Regions from separate parts of the Homo sapiens genome. Here region 1 is linked to region 2. The links come from fine-mapping of genetic effects on gene expression. A gene starts in region 2. The other region holds a variant in brackets. All regions are shown on one strand. Distances are between the middles of the regions. Region 1 has its middle 14 kb from the start of CEP162. Region 2 holds the start of CYB5R4 (cytochrome b5 reductase 4).

What was found. PIP is the estimated chance that this variant, and not a neighbour inherited with it, causes the effect.
Region 1: its variant is the best candidate, but not a certain one, in a credible set for the expression of CYB5R4 in whole blood (INTERVAL, PIP 0.87).

Annotation. Positions count from the first base shown.
Region 1 is chr6:84,238,946-84,244,332 of GRCh38, forward strand. No RefSeq gene overlaps it. Among named protein-coding and RNA genes, the nearest start is that of CEP162, 14 kb to the left of the region's middle. RefSeq lists an enhancer at 4,759-5,387. The variant C/G (reference allele first, on the strand shown) is at 2,692.
Region 2 is chr6:83,857,526-83,862,912 of GRCh38, forward strand. It overlaps CYB5R4 (cytochrome b5 reductase 4), which reads left to right and starts at 2,164. Exons shown (of 16, transcript NM_016230.4): 1 at 2,164-2,332. The coding sequence starts at 2,258. The region is part of intron 3 of RIPPLY2-CYB5R4 (RIPPLY2-CYB5R4 readthrough); the gene reads left to right. RefSeq lists a silencer at 2,235-2,284.

The sequences.
Region 1 (5,387 bases), 380 kb after region 2:
AGTTAGAATGGTGATCAGTAAAAAGTCAGGAAACAACAGATGCTGGAGAGGATGTTCAGAAATAGGAATGCTTTTACACTGTTGGTGGGAGTGTAAATTAGTTCAACCATTGTGGAAGACAGTGTGGTGATTCCTAAAGGATCTAGAACCAGAAATATCATTGACCTGGCATTCCCATTACTGGGTATATACCCAAAGGATTATAAATCATTCTACTATAAAGACACATGCACACATATGTTTATTGAGGCACTATTCACAATAGCAAAGACTTGGAACCAACCCAAATGCCCATCAGTGATAGACTGGATAAAGAAAATGTGGCACATATACACCATGGAATACTAGGCAGCCATAAAAAAGGAAGAGTTCATGTCCTTTGCAGGGACATGGATGAAGCTGGAAACCATCATTCTCAGCAAACTAGCACAGGAACAGAAAACCAAACACCACATGTTCTCACTCATAAGTGGGAGTTGAATAATGAGAACACATGGGCACAGGGAAGGGAACATCCCACACTGGCTCCTTTTGGGGGTTAGGCGCTAGGGGAGGGATAGCATTAGGAGAAATACCTAATGTAAATGACAGGTTCATGGGTGCAGCAAACCACCATGGCACGTGTATACCTATGTAACAAATGTGCACATTCTGCACATGTATCCCAGAACTTACAGTATAATTTTAAAAATGTGGAAAAAAAGGAAGGAAATTCATACAACATGAATGAACCTTGAAAATATTATGCTACATTAAATAAATCAGTCATAAAAAGATAAATATTATATGATTCCACTTATATAGGGTACGTAGAGTCATCAAATTAATAGAGACAAAAAGTAGAATGGTGGTGGCCAGGGACTTGGGGGAGGGAGGAATGCAGAATTATTGGTAAATGGGTATGAAGTTTCAGTCTGGGAAGATGAAAAGGTTCTGGAAATGGATGGTGGTAAAAGATGTAATATGAAAAGTACTTAGTGGCACTAAACTGTATACTTAAAACTGGATAAGATGGCAATTTTATGTATTTTTATCACAATTTAGAAATATATATTTAAAGCATTTAAGGGTATAATAGAAGAAAACTTTCCTGAAATAAAGAAATATAAAGCCAAAAGAAAAAAAAAGAAAAAATCAAATGGCAAAGTGATTATGTGACTAGAGCCATATCGAACTGAGAATTATCAACTTTATCAAGTCTAACATCAAATAGGCACAGCAGAAAATCCACTCTGTTGTGGAAATGGTACAAGGCCTGAGCAGGTACAGAACATAGAAGTAATGTACTTTACCTGAATGGATGAACAAGACTCCCATAACTACCCCTTTCACACTATGCTGCTTCCTGATTCACACAGGAATTCCTCTTCCTGTTACCTCATGGGTATATCCTATGACCAACGAATGAAGGAGAAAATACCCTGGCCTGGTTCATACATGAATAAGGGTGATTTATTGATGCCAACCACAAATAGACTGTTGTCAGTCTACTGCTACACTCACAGGTATCCCTAAAGAAATGTAATACAGAGAAATTCTACCAGTGCAAAGAGCTCTAAGCAGAGCACATTTTCAGTTACTTACATGGAGATAGACATGGCCTGAGGTATTATCTATAGCATATACATAGACTACTGGGTAGTGACAAATGGCTTTGCTTCTTGTTCAGGGGCCTTGATAAAAACAAGATCAAAAGATCAAAGACAAGTGTATCTGGGGAAAGAGGCATATGGATGGATTTATGGAAGTAGGTACATAGCATGCACATTTGATATAGTTTGGCTGTGTCCCCACCCAAATCTCATTTTGAACTGCCATGTTGTGGGGGGCACCTGGTGGGAGGTGTTGAATCATGGGGCAGGTCTTTCCCGTGCTAGTTTCGTGATGGTGGATGAGTTTTGTGAGATCTGATGGTTATAAAAAGAGGAGTTTCCTTACACAAGCTCTCTTCTATTGCCTGCCACCATGTGAGATGCGCCTTTCACTTTCCATCATGATTGTGAGGCCTCCCCAGCCACATGGAACTGTAAGTCCATTAAACCTTTTTCTTTTGAAAATTTCCCAGTCTTGGGTATGTCTTTATCAGCAGCGTGAAAATGGACTAGTACAGCATTGCTATGCCTCATGTTAATGCTCACTAATGAGCACTCTAAATAAGAGGTACTTGACAACAAATAACACAGGTTAGGTTTCTCTGTGGGTGTGAGCTGTACTCTGTTTCGCTTTTACATATCTCACTGCTTGGATACTTGGTTTGTGAACAAATTTGCCACCACAGCTGGAAAAGAGGCTATTAATGGGCACAGCTCCCTAATGATGATCTAACTACTGCCCCCTGCTGAATGCCCAACTTGTCAGTAGTAGAGGCTGGTGGTGAAACCTCAATATGAAATTGTCAGAGTCCAGCCAGTCATTTCATATCAGATTAATTTTATTAGATCCTTTCCACCATGGAGATGGCAAAAATTCATCCTTGCTGGAATTAAAACCTACTATAGTAATGGATTTGCACTCCCTGCCAGTAAAGCCTCCACCATCACCACCAACTAAGGGCTTGCAGAAAGTGTTACCTATTGACATGGCATGTCTCACAACATTGTTTCTGCCCAAGTAGCTCATTTTATGGCAAAGGTGGTTCAGCAATGGGTGCATGATGATAGAATCCACTGGGATTACTAAATACCTCATCAC[C/G]TGGAAGCTGATGATCTATGGTAAAATAGCCTGTGGAAGACTCATCTGAAGTTCCAGGTTGGGACAGGATGAGATACATGTATGTATTATATCAGTGGCTGATATATGGTGCTGTGTCCTTTAAGCTAGAATACATGGATTCAAGAACCAAGGGTTGGAAGTACAATTTGTCTCTTTCACCATTACTCCCAGGTGACTTATTTGTAAGGTTTGAAATCTTAGGCTTTGCTGGATTAGAGGTCCTGGTTCCCAGGAGGCAGAGCACTTCTGCCAGGTAAGAGTGCCACAGAAATGGACTATCTCTTGCTGACTATCTCTTTGGGCTCTTCATTCCAGTGATTGGACTCCTCATTCCTGGATCAGCAGGCGAAAGAAAATTAATATAGTTGAAAGTCTAGTCTATCCTTACATATGTAAAGAGCCATTGTAACTGGAGGCAGAGAGGACTATCCAGTGACTTGACTGATGCATCTGCTGGTGTTTTCATGCCAGGTAATAATGGTGAGTGGGTGGTTATGGCATCTATGATGTGATAAAGGAAAAGCAAGCCTTGAGAAAAAGGTCTGGGTTACTCTGCCAGGCAAGAAACCTTAAATCAGATGAGATGATGGCCAAGGGCAAGAGAAATCTAGCATTGGTAATGGAAGACAGAGATGATGCCTTTCAATAAAGTCTGGGGACCAGCTGTAGCAGGGGTTGTAGCTAGTTCCAGAAACCCTCCTGCAGAGATTGTGGCTGGCCAGCTCCTTAAAGGGGACTCTGAGATAGATTGAACTTAAGGAAGTGAAAAGATAGATTTGAGTAGTGCAAAGGATCTACTGCATCAGATAACACTGTGAGCATCACTTCAAATCTTCTTGGTGCCATATCTTACTGCAGTCCTTGTTTCAACAACCAATTCTTGTAGACTTTGACCAGCTTCCTGCAGGTGCAGCTGAAGACTGCCTCACTTTTAGCCAAGGTCTGAGCTTCTCCCTTCCTTGGAACTTTTCTGACATTGAAGTGTGAAATGTTCATTGAAATGCCACACATACACAAGTTGCAAGTGGTTATGTGGTAGTCAAAGTCCCAGGAGCCACCTTCACTCATGGAGAGTGGAAGCCCATGGAGAAATGATACTCTTTTCTTCATGCATTTAATTAGGGCTTCTCAAAAGATCTTTGAATCCAGCACAGGTTAGCCATAGCTGCAGTCATTTGACAATGAATTCTTGTTTCAGCTTTCTCATTTTCCCTGTTTTTATTCCCCCAATCATAGAGCTGCTCTCCGGGTCCATGTTCCCAGATAAATTCCTTGTGAGCAAGCCTTTTTGGAAGAAACTCAGGCCTAGAGAACAATCTTATTAACTAAGTTGAAACAATAAAATAATATAAAGAATTGAGGTTTTAATATGCAAGTCTGCTTTCTTACTCATAACTACCGAGACTTAGGAAGAGTAATGATTTTGTAAATTAAAATATTTGTTTCAACTTATCTAAACTCTATTATTTATTCAATTTACATTTGAGAGCAGGTAGTCATAGTAAGCTGCTATATCACTAAAATGTTCATTCTACTATGTAAATTGCACACATTATCAGAGACTTACAAGCTGTGAATAAGAGGGCTTTTAAAAAAACACTTTGGAGTAGTATGAAATTGTCCAACATTACTTCCATATTGTTGAATAATTGATGCTATTATGTTCTCAAGGTAAATAAATATGAAAAGGAGAAAGTTCTTCAATAATAAGGTAAATGGAATTTGTGGCATTATTTCTGATAGTATTTGTAATGTCAGTTTACATTTTCACCATCAGAGGTCATGAAAGGACAGTTTAGAGCAGAAAATGTGAGCTTTGTTGAAAATAAATTTAAGTTTGAAATTTAAACTGAAACTTATTCTTACAAGGCCTTTTTAAAAAAGAAGTCACAATCTACTTAATGCCATTTATAAATTAAGAAAAATAATTTTTAAGAATAAAATTATCTGGTGGATTCCAAGGACATCCGGCTAATTATTGACTTTAGTGCTCTCAATTTATATTTTAAGAGCAATTTTAAAGTGCAAAGTATTGTTGACTACTTGTCTTTCAAATATAAATATAACATTTAATTTCAGTTGGGTTTGTGGGGTCTATAATTGATAAAAGTATTCTATTTTTTTTTTAATTTATTTTTTTTTTATTGATCATTCTGGGTGTTTCTCGCAGAGGGGGATTTGGCAGGGTCATAGGACAATAGTGGAGGGAAGGTCAGCAGATAAACAAGTGAACAAAGGTCTCTGGTTTTCCTAGGCAGAGTGTGTGTGTCCCTGGGTACTTGAGATTAGGGAATGGTGATGACTCTTAACGAGCATGCTGCCTTCAAGCATCTGTTTAACAAAGCACATCTTGCACCGCCCTTAATCCATTTAACCCTGAGTGGACACAGCACATGTTTCAGAGAGCACAGGGTTGGGGGTAAGGTCATAGATCAACAGGATCCCAAGGCAGAAGAATTTTTCTTAGTACAGAACAAAATGAAAAGTCTCCCATGTCTACTTCTTTCTACACAGACACAGCAACCATCCGATTTCTCAATCTTTTCCCCACCTTTCCCCCTTTTCTATTCCACAAAACCGCCAATGTCATCATGGCCCCTTCTCAATGAGCTGTTGGGTACACCTCCCAGACGGGGTGGTGGCCGGGCAGAGGGGCTCCTCAGTTCCCAGTAGGG
Region 2 (5,387 bases):
ATTTGGCCTTTTCTTTATCCCTACACTAGAATTGAATGTTGGAATCTAAAACAGGTGCCATCTACAAATGTCTTGATTGTATTATAAATATTTGGGGCTTACAAAGAATACATTTTTCTTTTCGTTAAATTGCACATTTATATTTAGTTATAATTTTGCAAAGAATGACAGTATTTAATTCTCAAGACTGAATCTTTTAACATCTGCTATTTCCTACTGATGCCAGTTGGATGTTGTAGTTACATATCAATGTTATCTTATTAGATAATGAAGAAAATAGACTTATGTTAGAAATCACTCATTTATTAGTAAAGATTTCTTAGCAGATGGAGAAAAACACATTAAATCATTACCTGTAATTGAAAAAGGGAATCAATCTTAGGGCTTTTAAATTATAGATATTTTAAATAAATGATGAGCAAAGTAACTCATATTTTAATACTCCTCTTCAGTCCTTAAATCCAGTAGTAAAATAGTATGGATGTTTAATACTTAATGTACTACATTGAGGGATCCCTAGAATTAAAACAAAACGTTTAAATTTGAGTGATTGATATGGAGTCTAAAAAAGTGGAGTCTAAAGGCCAGAAGTTGATAGCATCTTCCATTTCTGTACAAAGGGGAGCTAAGAAATTTGGAAAGCATGGAACATTCTTCAACAATATTAACTTTTCCTTGCTCTGGTTCTCTGCTTTTGATATTCTTATGTAAAAGTTTTCTCACGAGAAGTGAAATAAATCTCAGTGATTAGTTTTTCTTGTGTAGACTCTAGAAGAATATGTCATCATTTAATGAGAGAGAACACAGAAGCAATTTGCAAAGTCAAAGTAATACAGTTAATTATAGTCATGAGGTTCTTTTAGCTCAAATTCAGTCTTCTCATAATAAGCATTTCAATTGCAAATAAAAATGGATAGAGGTGAATGTCATAGGTGGCTACCTTATTTGAATGCTTGTATTTGAATGGCCACATATAGTCACACACTTTTTCTTCTGATTCTGCAAACATAACCTTGATTTTTTAGGCACTTTAAGAACTAAGTAGTTAAACAGAGAAAGTTTAAAGCATGACAATATGTTCAGAGTTAGGAAAAATTAGTAATTAAAGGAGGATGGGGAGGATTATTTAGAACTATGTTTCTTCTCCTGAAAACTTTCTCCCTTATTGGATTCTACTCTCAAGATCTATGTGTTCCCCAAGGGACACACAAAACAATCAATCAAACAAACAAAAACCATCAGATTTTGAGCATTAGAGCCTGGTGTTTACCTGCACAGTGTTGGTCCTTTTCCCATTAATATGTTGGAATAGCACAAACAGCCACTGCCACTTATTCAGTACCTAATATTAATCAGGCACTGCAGTATGTAGTTTACACATGATCCTTTAATCTTTAATAAACCCATTATGCAGATGGGGAAAATGAGACTTTGAGATACTAAAGTAACTTGCATAAGACAGCTCAGTCATTAAGTGCAGGGATGGCATGCAAACCAAATCTGACTTTTAAACGTTACTTCATCACCACAGCTGGAGGTGAGCTGCATCAGTACACAATTCCCAGTGAAGACAGGAAGTTACATAAGGAGGGAGAATTTGTGAGTGGGTGAATAGAGCAGAAGGTGACTTTACTAACGTCTTTCGCGCATTCATTAGCCCTCAGCATGCTTAAAGGTGAAGTTTAAGGATGATTAAAGGTGAGGTTTTCTTCTTACCCCACAGTAGTGGCTGTTGACATTTGATATTTTTGCTCTTAAAGGTGTGAGATGCTCTTTGCATTACAGCCTAGTGCCTTACAGGAAAGAATTTCAGAGAAACTAAAATTCGTTTTAGTCCATATTTCAAGTAGTGTGTTTTAGTCCATATTTCAAGTAGTGTGATGGTACTGCTTAACAATGAACAGACATTGCTGTTCCGGGTTAACAGGACTAAGAATTTGTTCCCACATTCGGTCAGCACCAAGGCTAAGGAACAGCTTCACTCTCTAATCTTTCCACGAAATAGCTGTCACCTTGCTCCGGTGCTGAAGTTCGGGATGCGGAACTAGCTGAGCATGCGTACTTCCTCCCTGCCGGCCCTCCCTCCGTCCCGTTGGCTCCGCCCTCCGCGGACGTGCTGCGTCAGAATGCGCCTCACCCCTGGCGACCCCGGAAGTGGGTCGGGGGCTTGGCCTCTGCCCGGCCACAGAGCCGGAGCTGGAGGTGCTGTCCCGTCTGGCGGCGATCCCCGGGCAGGGCCCGGGGCCGGGGTTTGAAGATGCTGAACGTCCCTTCCCAGTCTTTCCCGGCCCCCAGGTCGCAGCAGCGTGTCGCCTCCGGGGGGCGTAGCAAGGTAAGCGGGTGGCTCCGTGAGTCTCTCCCCTCGCTGCGTTTCGAGCTCTGGCAGTGTGTTCTCTTCTTCCGCCCCAACTCCCAGCTCCTGCACCCCTCTCTAAGCTGTCGTTCCCTGCTGTCCTTGCCTGCAACCTCTTTCTGATCCCACTTTGTCTACAGTCCCTAAACTCTCCTTACCTCCTCCCTTTCCCCTAGCAGTCCCTCTTCTTTCTGGTCCTTTATCCCGCTCTATCCGTTCCCTTCCTCCAAGTCCTTTCCCGCGATTTAAATTTATATGACAGAGCCAGGCACTGTGTTTGCGGTATTATAGGCTCTCGGTATTAGCCGCCTTCCCTCAACCTCATCTTCTCCCTGGTCTTTTGTTCTTCACTGCCTGAAGGAGTTGTACCACATCACTCGATGTGGGTTCCCTCGCAGGAGGGAAAGGCTTGGCAGTGGCGACAGTGACCGTCCGTGCAAGGATGGGGACTTCTGGAGTTGGGGAGCTAGGTCAGGTTTACAGACACTATCCAAGACATACTGCCTTTCTTTCTTCCTCTGGTACCTGATTGTTTTGTCATTGCCTTTTCTACTAGTATCACTTGCTAACTTCGAAGCAAATATAATAATACTCTTGAGTTCTTGTTGAGCACAGTTGCTGTTAGCAACAGGTGGAATACTGTACAGATATATTTTATATTTGCAGAATTCAATAAAAATTGTGTTCTTTGTTCTTTTGCGAATGTTGTTTGTTCCTATTTGTTAGTTCCTCATTCTGTAACCATATCTTTATCTTTCGTTTGTGACACTTCCACTTAACTTGGGCCACTCGGTTAACTCTTGAGTCTTAGCATCGTTTGGAACCCTTATCGATTTTCTTATTTTTCTCCACTTAGACCTGGCGTTCTGATTCTAGTTCAGAATGAATATAGGTTCAGGGATCTGTGGTTTTCATTAGCTTTCCAGAGATTTCTTAAGTACTTACGGGTGGCCGTGTATATTCTCAGTGCTTTGCATGTATTAACTTTAATTTTCACAATTATCCTTTGAAGTGAAAGCTTTTATTGTCTCTATTTCGCAGAAAAGGAAACTGGCTAAGAAATATTGCCCTAAATTGCGTAGGCTTGTGTTGTGGTTCTGCTGTGAAATTTCATTTACTGATTCATATATCAATCATCTAGCCATCCAATCATGTATATTTTTCTCATTGGTTTTTGACCTATTTCTTGAAGCTAAATACTTGACTGAATAACAGTCTTTCCAGAAAGAATCTCTGAATTAGAATATGAGTTACTGCCCTTCTTCGTTAAAAATACCAACTGTGTTCTTAGCATCCATTTAAAGGAGAAAACTTAGAAGCAAAGACAAAAAGTCACACAGGGGGCGATGGCAAAGGTGAGTTTTTGGTCCAAAAAGAGAACAAAATAAGATTATTGTGCAATTCTAAGGAAAAGTCAGACTCCAGTCTTCTTCCTCTTTTCTTTGTGAAACAAGATGATGCTGAGAATGTAAAAACTGAGTCAGGTTTGGATGAAATGGGTAGAGGTTGAGAAAATAGAACCAAGTTGGGAAGGTCGTGTATTATACAAAAGGTTCTCAAATAGTGTTGTTTCATTCAACAGCATTTAGTTATAATATTGATGAGAAAAAAAATTCGTTTTGGCCAGGGCCACTGTCTTTGGAGTTTGCATGCTCTGTGTCTGCGTGGGTTTTCTCTGGGTACTCTGGTTTCCTGCTACAGCCCAAAGATATGCAAGTTAGGTTAATTGGTGTGTCTAAATGGTCCCAGTCTGTGTGAATATTGGGTGTGTATGAGTGTGCCTTGCCATAGGATGGCATCCTGTCCAAGGTCGGTTCCTGCCTTGTGCCCTGAGCTACTGGGATAGGCTCTGACTACCTGTGACATTGAACTGGAATAGTTGGGTAAATAATTATCTTACTTGTTTTTTAATTAATCTTTCTTAAATGTATATATAGCTAACATTTCTTTCAGTGTTTAATATTAGAAGTATTTTGGTCTTTATTTAGAAGTCTGGTGATGTTTTTGTGACCAGAAATATGCTGCAGGAAATTTTGTTTGTCAATTAACCCACGGTAAAATTAGTTTCGTTGTACATAGTTTAGTTTCCAAGCACCTAGTGACTAGCTTAAGTGAAGGCTTATTGTAATTTTTTAAAGGCACAGATTTTGAAGTGAGAAAGACCTAGATTCTTTCACCATATCTGCCAGTTAATCTCTTTGAGTCTGTTTCCTCAGATGTAAATGAGAATAACAGTACCCATTTTATAGGATTGTTCATAGGATTCAATGAGATAATGTTTCTCTTAGCACAGCCTTGGTAAGCACCCAGTAAATGCTACTTGTCCTGAGGCTTTTATTCAGATCTCACAGACTTGAGTGTGACACAGAATATGCACTCAACATATGATAGTTATTATTTCTATTAATACTGGTAAACAAATACTTATTGAGAACCTACCATATGCTGGAGTTTTTGGTCTCTGATTTCAAGGTGTTTAGTCTCATAGGTTGCATGAAATAGTGAACATTCAGTTATAAAGTCATAAGTACTACAACAGGGTGGTATGACCACTAAGGAGTTGAGGATCAGAGAAGCCTTCCAGAGGAATTAATGGGAGTTGGAGTGAGGTTGATCCATGCAGGGAAAGCAACACTACTATAAGCAAGTACTTGACAGCAATAAAGGAATCAAATAATCAGTTCCCATTTGGCTAAAGTATATAATGGAAAGGAGCAAAAGTTAGAACATGGAGCTAGTACAGTCAACTGTGACCAGATTGTGAAGACCTGGTAAATCCCTAGGGAATTTAGAGACGTTGTTGTAAGGTGACCTGAGGAGCCACTGAAGGAGGGAGAGCCTGTGATTAGATTTGCATTTCTGAAAGATTGCTTTAACTATCCTGTGGATTATGGAATGGAGAGAGGTGAGTGATTTTAGTTTGGGATGGGAAAGGTCATTTTCTCACACTTCATTTATTGGGATCAAGAGACCTAGAGTTTCAGTGATAGCCAGAATGGAATGATGTAGATTGATAGGATAGAATGTGAAAGGC